2 separate regions of the Homo sapiens genome follow, and region 2 is linked to region 1. Evidence: fine-mapped expression QTL. A gene starts in region 1. The other region holds a variant in brackets. All regions are shown on one strand. Distances are between the middles of the regions.

The links. PIP is the estimated chance that this variant, and not a neighbour inherited with it, causes the effect.
Region 2: its variant is the best candidate, but not a certain one, in a credible set for the expression of GFER in esophagus mucosa (GTEx, PIP 0.50).

Annotation. Positions count from the first base shown.
Region 1 is chr16:1,981,742-1,987,100 of GRCh38, reverse strand. It overlaps GFER (growth factor, augmenter of liver regeneration), which reads right to left and starts at 2,908. Exons shown (of 3, transcript NM_005262.3): 1 at 2,625-2,908; 2 at 2,158-2,354; 3 at 1-1,235. The coding sequence starts at 2,882. The coding sequence ends at 1,073. It overlaps TBL3 (transducin beta like 3), which reads right to left. Exons shown (of 22, transcript NM_006453.3): 22 at 4,172-5,359. RefSeq lists silencers at 2,617-3,156, 4,177-4,369.
Region 2 is chr16:2,008,352-2,013,710 of GRCh38, reverse strand. ZNF598 (zinc finger protein 598, E3 ubiquitin ligase) reads left to right here and starts at 3,890. Exons shown (of 14, transcript NM_178167.5): 1 at 3,890-3,973; 2 at 3,975-4,086; 3 at 4,088-4,187. The coding sequence starts at 3,964. It overlaps LOC124903626 (a long non-coding RNA gene), which reads right to left and starts at 3,826. Exons shown (of 2, transcript XR_007064941.1): 1 at 3,609-3,826; 2 at 3,123-3,403. It also overlaps the pseudogene RN7SL219P. RefSeq lists silencers at 1,486-1,681, 3,772-3,991, 4,082-4,511, 4,522-4,591 and enhancers at 3,532-3,691, 3,216-4,164. The variant T/C (reference allele first, on the strand shown) is at 2,408.

The sequences.
Region 1 (5,359 bases):
TCCTCTTGGTGGTCACTCGGTGACTGCCCCGGCTTCCTCCCCACCCCTCCTGTTCCACCCTTACCTGCCTCATCCCAGCTCAGCAGCCAGAGGACCCTTCAAAGCCACATCACTCCATGCCATCCCCTGGCTCCAAACCCGCCAAGAACTTCCTGTCAGGGGAACTAGGGGTAGAAGCCATGGCTTTGCTGGGGCCTTGGAGACCTCGTGCCGTCTGGCCTCCCAGTACTCCTACATCAGCTACTCTGGCCCCCCTGCCCCAACCAATCAACGTCCTTGCTGTTCCTGGCTCACTCTCACCCTGTGGTCTCTCTCTCCTGAGGAACCAGGACCCCAGCAGGAAATGCAGCTGAGCACAGAGGGATGGAACAAGCCCTGTCTACTGCTTTATTAAGCCCCAGCAGAAAATATACTGAAGCCAGGTTCTCAGTCACTTCAGCGTTTCATTTGGGCTTCAAACTCTGATGAAGTGAGCCCCACGAATCCCCTGTGGACAGGCATGACACAACGCTGGCAGGCATGTGCCAGGCAGGGAGAGGGTAGGATGGCTGGTGGACCCTCAGAAAGACCCGACCTGAGCTTTCCCTGTAGGGACTGAGCAGAGTGGAGAATTGAGCCCCCTAAAGTGAGCAGCACAGAGCCATGGGGGGCAGGGGCATCCCTGGCTGCATAGTGGGAAGGCAATGGCCTGGCCGCCAGGGACAGGCACAGGGATGCCCAGCCAGGCCCGCTGTCTTCCCGTGTGAGGAGTGAGGCGCCAGGGTATGCGGTGGGCAGGAAGCTACATCCTGAATGTCAAGGGGCAGCCCAGGCTGCTCCTCCTTCCCTCCCCTGCAGTTCAGCTGCAGCTCCTTGGGGTCTCCACTGAGGAGGGGGCCAGTGGGTACCTGCTGTGGGCACCTCCACTTCTGCTCCAAACCTAAGAGGGGCAGGGCAGGTCCCCACAGGCAGTGTCCTGGGGACCACCCAACTGAGACACAACAGGCTCTGGCTGTGATGCACTTTAATGAGTGCCCTGCCCCTATCCAACCATGCCTGGCTAGCTGTCCCATGAGCTCTGGCTGACCACCCTCTAGTCACAGGAGCCATCCTTCCAGCCGTCGCGCCAGCGCTCATCCACTTTTGAGCAGTCGAAGTCAGGCTTGCCCAGCTTGCGGTTCACTTCATTGTGCAGGTGGCACAGCCACTGTGTGAAGCATGCCCGGGTGCGGGTGTCTGGGTGGTTCCTGCACAGCCTGTGTAGGGAGAGCAGGTAAAGAATGAGAGGACGCAGCGGCTCCACTGCCCCTGCCAGTTCCCTGTCTGCTGTCAAGGAAGGAGAGCTGGGGCACTGCTGTGAACTACACCTGGGAGTGCCCTTATGCTCCAAGGTACAGGCACTCCCAGAACAGGGCTGACCCTGCAGCTCCCCGGGTGTGATGAACTCCCAGGGCTGCGCAAACACCCACCTGGACAGCTTGGCAAACTCCAACGAGGCCTCAAGGCAACACATTACAGCACAGACCTGGCAATTTTATAAGCTCCTAACACCCAGGAAGCGGCATCCAGTGTCCCTGGCCTCAGGCAGAGTGTGGCCTGGGTGGGGCTGGGCACAGCCTTGTAACTGAAAACTGGACTTGTTTCTTAGCATCTGAGGGCAGGCCCTGGTGCGTCAGTTCAGCAAGAGACTTCATTCTAACTGACCAGCCTTATAGCAACAATGGCGGCTCTACCCTATACATCTGGCCTAGAAACACCTGCAAGGGCCAGTGCTGGCTCTTGGATCCCTCAGTGAGGAAGAGATGGCTCTTGGGAGCAAAAGCAGTGGATTTCCAAGATTTTAAAACCAGAAGTCCTACTCTAGAAGTCAGGCAAAGTGGAGTCTTCCCTAACTTGCGGGAAACCGCCTTCAGTGCCAGACAAGGCAGGGAATCCCTTCCTGGAAGCCCTGTGGCTGTGGCAGGAGCAGTACCCAGCAGCAGATCCCGACAGCTTGGCTTCTGAGACGAGAGGAGGAGGCTCAGATAGCCCCAGTCCTCACCTGTTGGAGGTCCCTGCTCCTCAGCAAACTTCTGCCACCTCTGCATCCGTTTCTCTACGTTCCCCGCTATAACGTCAGCCAGGAGCCCCAGGCCCAGGCTCCAGTGCAAAGCTCTGCTGCGTGCAAACACATCTTACCTTTTTCTTAGGTCTTCAGCACACTCCTCACAGGGGTAAAACTTAGAAAATAAATGTATGAACTGGGCCATGTCTTGCTGCTGTTCTGGGGTGGGCAGGTCGGGGTAGTAGGCGGCCAGGGTGTGGAGGACAGCCCAGCTGTGGCGGCCCAGTTCCTCGCGATCCGGCGGGCAGTCCTCCCTAAACTTGGTGTCCCGCTGCGGAAGCAGGCCGACCGAGAGTGAGTTCATTCTCCGAACAAAGGCGCCCAAAGCTCCCCACTGTACGGCCCAGCCGGTGGCCCACTGGACTCCGGCCAAAGTCCTGCAGACGATCCAACCCACGCGCGGATGAAGGCTGTAAGGCCGGGCCTACCCGGGGGGCAAGGTTCAGGGACAGGCAACCCTGGGAAGCTCTGCCGGGGTACCTGGGCGGGGGCGGGGACAGGGGCTGCGCGGGGCTGGGAGAAATCGGGCAGGGAACTGCACCTTCTGCTGCGTCCGCATCCACGTCTTGAAGTCGACGCAGGCCCGGCACGGCCGCCTCCGGGAGGCGTCCTCGGCGACAGGAGAATCGGAGGTCGGCGCCTGGGCTGGCGTCGAGGCCGAGGCGGCCGCGTCTCTCCGCCCCGCGCCCCGGCCCCGCGCGTCGGTCGCCAGGTCGTCCATCATCTCGGAGCGCGCGCCCCCCGGCAGGAAGAAGAGGTTCCCGCCGTGGAAGCGGCCCCGCTCGCCGGGCGCCGCCATGTTGCCCGCGCAAGGCCTGCCGGGTCAGCTCGGCCTCCAGATGAGCCTCCAGGTCAGCCTCCAGGCCAGCGCGCGGCCACAGGAGCCGGAGGCGCGCGCCGTGCTCGCGGGGGCCGGGCCCGAGCCGGGGCTGGGGGCAGAGTCGGGGGCGGTGCCTGCTTGCGGGCCCGTGTGGAGGCGGAGCCAGAGGCCGCGGCGCTGGCCGGGCCCGAGGACAGGGGCGGGGACGGAGCAGGAGGGTCGGACCCTGCTGGCGCCCTCAGGCGTCGATCCGCGGCGCACGCAGGGGTTGCGCCGTCCGTGGCGGCCGTCCCGCTTTCTCCAGTAAAAGAGCAGTGTGTGGCGCAAGGTGCGCCTCGGCCGCGCTGTGGACCCGAGCTGACACCCAGGCAAAGTCCGTGTTGCGGCCCGCGACGTCCCCATCGCTCCGTTCTGAGTGTCCTGCGTGCCTGCGGCCAGGCTTTGTGCCCTCCGCTGAGGGGCGCGTCCACCCGCTGGCTGCCAAGCGCTCTCTCAACGCGGGCCGGGCGTGACCGCACAGATTGCGGCGCGCGCTAGGGTCCTGGGCTCTTGTCCCCTCCCTGGCGCCATGGCAACGGGCGTCTGGCAACGCAGGGCGCGGCGCGGCCGCAGAGGGTTGGCGCGTGCCTTGGGCTCCCTGGCGCCCCTCGCCGGCTGTCGCGGATCCTAGAGCCTGGGATGAGGGGTCGGGCTCCCGGTTGGAGCGGCCTCTGGGATTCCTGTGCCTCCTTGCGTTCATTTATCCATTCCGCTATTATTTGCGCAGTGACCGCTCTGTTCCAAGCGCTGTTCCAAGTGCTGGGCAGAGCAGGGAACACAATTCTGTTCCCTGACCTTCTCTGTTCATAATCCAGTGGTCAAGACAGGAAAAAAAAACAAGGACTCACACTCATAAATGTTCACGTACAAACTGGTGGGTCCATGCAAGGGTGTAGTAAATCTGGAAGGCCTCCTTGAGGAGGTGACCCTTTCTGAAGGATGAGGAATCAGCTGAGGAGCGCCTTCGAGACCAAGCCCAAGGTGGCAGGGTCTTGGCATTTTGCAGGAACAAAAACGCCAGTGGGACGCTAGGGAGGGTTGTAAGGTGGGAGGGGAGATCCAGGGACGGACAGGGGCCCACCAAAGACTTGGTCGGCAGCTTCGGGGATTGGGAATTTATTATAACGGTAGGAGGGAAGATGCTAGACAGTTTTGGGCAAGGTTACCCAATCTGATCCCATTTCAGTTTGCTGCAGATTCCGCTGGCTATCATATGGGGAGTGGATTTCTTTTTTTTTTTTGAGACAGGGTCTTGTTCCGTTACCCAGGGTGGAGTGCAGTGGCGCGATCTTGTTCACTGCAGCCGCGACTGCTTAGGCTCAAGTGATCTCCCACCTCAGCCTCCCAAGTAGACTACAGGCACACGCCACCACGCCCAGCTAATTTTTGTATTTTTGGGGGGCACAGATGGAGGTCTCAACATGTTGCCCAGACTGGTCTCGAACTCCTGAGCTCAAGCAATCCCCCTGCCTCGGCCTCCCAAAGTACTTGGATTACAGGTGAGGCACTGTGTCTGTCCTTGGAGTGGATTTTGTAGGGGCAAGTGAGGAGCATACAGATGGAGGGTGGGGTGTACTATTCAGGCAAGAAAAGAGGGTAGGGGAGGAAAAAGTGGAAACCATGCAGGGCTGATGGGGTGTGGGGCAGGAGCTGTCAGCTGGGGTAGGCAGGTGGCCTCAGAATCCCTCTAGGCCTCTGCTTGTGAATAAATCCTCCCCAGCTTCTCCTGTCTTCCAGGGGAGCAAGGTCTCCCCTGGGTTCACACGCTGGACCCCACCAGGTCAGCTGGGCCCTCAGCTGAGACAGGGAGAAGGTGACAGCTGGCTGGGGGAACCCTGCAAATCAGCCCTATGTGAGCAGGTGTTCATTGCCCATGCCAAGACCAGGGACAGCTTGAGGGCATGAGAGAGAGTGCTGGTGGGACAGACACACAAAGGCCCTTTGTTGCAGCCAGGGCAGCTTCCTGGAGGGATGCCTTAGAGGCTGACTGCTCCCTGAAGGGGCTGGAGTAGGTGCATCCCAACACAGAACTGGTGGCCCCAGCACGAGGAAAAACCACTGTGTGCCAGGGTTGAATGTGGCTTCCGAAGCCCGAACTATAAGGAAGCAGCCAGAGAGGTGGGGCACCTGGGCGAGCCTCTGCCCAGGCCATGTTTGCAGTAAGTCATGGCAAATCGTGAATTGAGAGGTGGTTCTCAAAACAGCCCTAGTGACCACTTCCCTGACCACCACCCCCACCCACCAAATGCCAGTGACTGCACAGATGGGCCCTCTTTCTCCTACCCCAAGTCTCCTCACTGCAGGGGAACCCCTGGGGTGAGCCTGTGAGGTCTGCCCCTCCCCCAGCATGTATAGAACAGCTCACAATAATTACGCATTTAACACACATTTCCTCCTCTATGAGTTGGGGACATTAA
Region 2 (5,359 bases), 27 kb before region 1:
GGATTACAGGCATGCGCCCCTGCGCCCGGCCAGAAACAGAAAAACTCGTAGCTGCAGCACTACTGACCTTTGCCATCCTGTGCACTGAGAATCTTTAGTAGCATCCCTGGCCTTCACCCATGTGTGTACGCAGAACAGTAGCCCCCCAAAGATGTTCGCCCCCAATCCCTGCAACCTGTGAATATTTATGCCACATAGTAGGAGGGAATTAGGCTGTAGATAAAATGGTTGATTAGAGGCAGGGTCTCACTATGTTGCCCAGGCTGATGTCTAGTGGCTATTCACAGGCGTGATCCCACTACTGATCACAGGAGTTTTGACCTGCTCTCTTTCCAAACTGGCCCAGTTCACCCCTCCTGAGGCAACCTGGTGGTCCCCTGCTCCCAGGAGGTCACCAAGTCGATGCCAAACTTAGTGCAGACACCTGACTGACACAGCCCACTATATCCTCAGAACTCCTGGACTGACACAATCCTCCTGCCTCGGCCTCCCGAGTAGCTGAGACTACACGTGCGCACCACCACACCAGGGAATATAAAATTAAGGTTGCTAATTAGCTGGCTTTATTTTATTTTATTTGAAACAGAGTCTTGCTCTGTCACCCAGGCTGGAGTACAGTGGCATGATCTCCGCTCACTACAACCTCTGCCTCCCGGGTTCAAAGCGATTCTCCTGCCTTAGGTTCCCAAGTAGCTGGAATTATAGGCGCCCACCACCATGCCCGGCTAATTTTTGTATTTTTAGTAGAGATGGGGTTTCACCATGTTGGCCAGGCTGGCCTCGAACTCTTGACCTCCAGTGATCTGCCTGCCTCAGCCTCCCAAAGTGCTGAGATTACAGGCCTGAGCCACCACATCAGGCCAGCTGGCTTTAATAGGAGATTAGCGGCTGGGCGTGGTGGCTCACGCCTGTAATCCCAGCACTTTGGGAGGCCAATGCAGGCGGATCACCTGAGGTCAGAAGTTCAAGACCAGCCTGACCAACATGGAGAAACCCCGTCTCCACTAAAAATACAAAATTAGCCGGGCGTGGTGGCGCATGCCTGTAATCCCAGCTACTGAGGAGGCTGAGGCAGGAGAATTGCTCGAACCGGGAGGCGGAGTTTGCAGTGAGCCGAGATTGTGCCATTGCACTCCAGCCTGGACAACAAGAGCGAAACTCCACCTAAAAAAAAAAAAGCTGGGCGGGGTGGCTCACGCCTGTAATCCCAGCACTTTGGGAGGCCGAGGCGGGTGGATCATGAGGGCAGGAGATGGAGACCATCCTGGCTAACACGGTGAAACCCTGTCTCTACTAAAAATACAAAAAGAAATTAGCCGGGTGTTGTGGCGGGTGCCTGTAGTCCCAGCTACTCGGGAGGCTGAGGCAGGAGAATTGCTTGAACCTGGGAAGTGGAGGTTGCAGTGAGCCAAGACTGTGCCACTGCACTTCAGCCTGGGCGACAGAGACTCCATCTCAAAGAAAAAAAAAAGATTGGACCACTGGCCTCCCCCAGAGTCAACTCTGAAAGACAGAAAGCAGCCATGAGCCAAGGAGTTCGGGCAGCCTCTAACAGCTGGAAAAGGCAAGGAAGCAGATTCTCCCCTGGAGCCTCCAAATAGGAATGCAGTGATACTGACACCCTGATTTTAGCTCAGTGTGACCCACGTTAGAGTCTGGACTCCAGAACTAAAGATAATACATTTGTGTGTTTTAAGCCAAGTTTGTGGCCTTTTTTTTTTTTTTTTTTTTTGAGATGGAGTCTCACTCTGTTGCCCATGCTGGAATGCAGTGGCGCAATCTTGGCTCACTGCAAGCTCCACCTCCCGGGTTCACACCATTCTCCTACCTCAGCCTCCGGAGTAGGTGGGACTACAGGCGCCCGCCACCACACCAGGCTAATTTCTTTTTGTATTTTTAGTAGACATGGGGTTTCACCGCGTTAGTCATGATGGTCTTGATCTCCTGACCTCGTGATCCACCTGCCTCAGCCTCACAAAGTGCCAATTTCAAGCTGGGATTACAGGTGTGAGCCACCGCGCCCAGCCAAGATGTTGAACTTCTTACATCCTTACAATAACTTTTCCCAGTTTTCTTTTTTTTTTTTTGAGATGGAGTCTCACTCTGTGGCCCAGGTTGGAGTGCAGGGGCGCAATCTCTGCTCATTGAAACCTCTGCCTCCTGGGATCAAGCGTTTCTCGTGCCTCAGCCTCCCGAGAAGCTGTGACTACAGGCGCATGTCACCACGCCCCGTTAATTTTTGTGTGTTTTGGCCAGGCACAGTGGCTCATGCCTGTAATCCCAGCACTTTGGGAGGCCAAGGCAGGTGGATCAAGAGGTCAGGAGATCGAGACCATCCTGGCGAACATGGTGAAATCCTGTCTCTACTAAAAATAAAAAAAAAAAATTAGCAGGGCGTGGTGGCGGG[T/C]GCCTGTAGTCCCAGCTACTCAGGAGGCTGAGGCAGGAGAATGGCGTGAACCCGGGAGGCGGAGCTTGCAGTGAGCCGAGATCACGCCACTGCACTCTAGTCGTGTGTGTTTTTTTTTTTTTTTTTGAGATGGAGTCTCGCTCTGTTGCCAAGGCTGGAGTGCAGTGGCGTGATTGTCGTGATCTCGGCTCACTGCAACCTCTGCCTCACGGTTTCAAGAGATTCTACTGCCTCAGGCTGCCGAGTAGCTGGGACTACAGGCACATGTCACCACGCCCGGCTAATTTTTGTATTTTTAGTAGAGATGGGGTTTCACCATTTTGGTCAGGCTTGTCTCCAATTCCTGACCTCAGGTGATCCCAACCTCCCAAAGTGCTGGGATTACAGGCGTGAGCCACCACGCCCGGCCTAAAAATTTTTTTTGTGGAGATGGAGCCTGACTGTGTAGGCCAGGCTGGTCTCAAATTCCCAGGCTCCAGCAATCCGGGCCACCCAGCCTCCCAAACTGCTGGGATTACAGGCTTGAGCCACTGTGCCTGACAGCTTTTTTCAAGTGGCAAAATTGGGGTTTCAAGCCCATTTGTGTCTGTTTCTAAAGTCCAAGTTCACTGGGCATGGATCACTTGAGCCCAGGAGGTTGAGGCCTCAGTGTGCTGTGATCGTACCACTGTGTTACAGCAAGAGCAAGACCCGGTCTCAAATAAAGTAAGTAAAGTTCAGGCTCATTGATACAATTTACTGCCTCTTTTCCAGTAGGGTTTAGATCTGGACCTGCCTTCTGGATGGCAGAGGGAGGGAGGTCCTGAGTGTGCCTGGCCCTCAAGGGTAGGGAGGAGGCCCTGTTACTGCAGCATCCATCCAAACACGTCCTGTGCTGGGCCCAGCGTAAAGAGGACAGGTTCCGTTCGTGCCTTCCAGAGGCCCCTTCTGGGCAGGCCTGGCGAGACTGCCCTGGGCTGCGAGATGGACGTCACCACGTGCTGCCTTTCACGTTGTCTTTCATGTAGGGATTTAAACAGGGCATTAGGGAAGTGGAGGCGGGACCACGCTTGTGTGTGTTCCAAATACCAGAGACCGGTTTCCTAATAAGGTGGCCAGATTTAGCAAATACAAATACGGCAGGTCCACTTAAATGTCAATTTCAGATAAGGAGCAGCATTTTAGTATGAGCCTAGCCCATCAATATTTGGGCTATACTTACACTAAGACATGACCCCTTGTTCATCTGAGATGCAAACCAGTTGTGCCGTGTTTCATCTGACAACGCCAGTTCGTGGAGCCCGGCGAGTGTTGACGTGACACGCGTGGCCCAGAGGAGCCCGGGGCTGGCCGCGTGGCCGCGCGGACCTTCGAGCGGTCGGCTCATGGTAGAGCGGCCTCTATCAGGGCCACCGCTCTAGCCGGCGCCGCGCTGAGGCGGAAGTCGCGACGCGCACTTGCGCCGGGCGGGCCCGTTGCTGGGTGGGGCGGTGACGTTTGCCCGGAAGGGGCGGGCCCGCCGGGAGCCAGGCCGCTCGGCGCCACGACCGGCCGAGAGGGGGGCCGGATCCCGGACCATGGCGGCGGCCGGGGGGCGCCGAGGGGCGGCGCGCGGACATGGAGGCGGAGGCGGCGGCAGCTCCTGAGCGGGGAGGCGGGAGCTGCGTGCTGTGCTGCGGAGACCTGGAGGCCACGGCGCTGGGGCCGCTGCGACCACCCGGTGTGCTACCGCTGCTCTACCAAGATGCGGGTGCTCTGCGAGCAGCGCTACTGCGCCGTGTGCCGCGAGGAGCTGCGCCAGGTGCGGGGCGCCGGGGGCGCGGCCCGGGGGCAGCGGGGCTCCCGGCGACCGGATGGGGACTTTGCCTCACTGAGGTCCGGCCGTGGGCCCGGCGGCGCCGGCTTCCGAGAGAGGCCTGGTGGGGCCACCCAGGGCGGGGTCCCGGCCGTGCGGCTGACGGCGGGGCGTTGGGGCTTGGAGGCCGGAGGCGGCCGAGCGGGTTGCAGGAGGGGGCAAGCCCTGTGGGGACAGCCTGGGGACTTCCCCCGTGTCCCGGGGGTTCCTGCCGGGCCTCAGGAAGGGTCCTGATCAGATGGAGAACTCGGTGACCTGCTCGTCTTCAGGAGTTTATTTTCCAGGGTCCTCCATTCGAGGAAACAAGGCAAGGGGGACTCTGCGGAGGCCATCCGTCCTGGAAGCAGGGCGTCAAACTCTGGGCATTCTCAGCCCAGCTGTGTTTCTGGGCCCCCATTGGATGACCCTGAGCAAACTCCTTCCGAGACTGACGTTTTCCTCTGTGGAGTGGAGGTGACACTAGCCTCGGAAGGAGACCTGCCCGTCGGAGGGGAAGGCCCCCTCGCGCTTCTTGGCGGGAAGGGAGAAAAGTGTTAGGAAGTTGTCCTCCTCCTCGCCGCCGCCCCCCGCCTTTGGCGCTCATCTCCGCAGTGAATGGGAGACGTTTTTGACTGTACAGACTTGGAAGCCGTGGAGGGGTCAGAGGGTACCATGCAGCGTTCCTCCACCCTCACTGCACTGCCAGCTGCTGGCTGTGGGCACCTGGCTGGAGCCCGTTGGTTTGCTGAGCTTAGAGATTTGTTTGCTTCCAGCATTGTGAAATTCCCCCGGTTTGTTCATAGAAGGCTTCGGCTGGTGACATCTGCCAGGAATCTAACTTTCTTCTCCCCAGAAGTGATGCAGAGCAGTATTGAGGTGTAGGTTCTTTCTTTTTTTCCTTTTCTTTCTTTAAGTAGACGTTTACATCAAAGGAGTTGAAGAGATGCTGCAATTCTCTGAGCAATTTGTGGGCTTATAGTCTGTGCCCTTTTTGGAAAAAGACATTTGGAGATTCTATCAGTCTGTCATGTGACAGGAGGAGGCCGACCCAGACCCCGGGGAGATCTGGGGTGCAGGAACAGTCACAGAGGACCTTGGCCCGTGGCTTCCTCAGGGCGCTTCCTGGCTTTGCCAGGGCC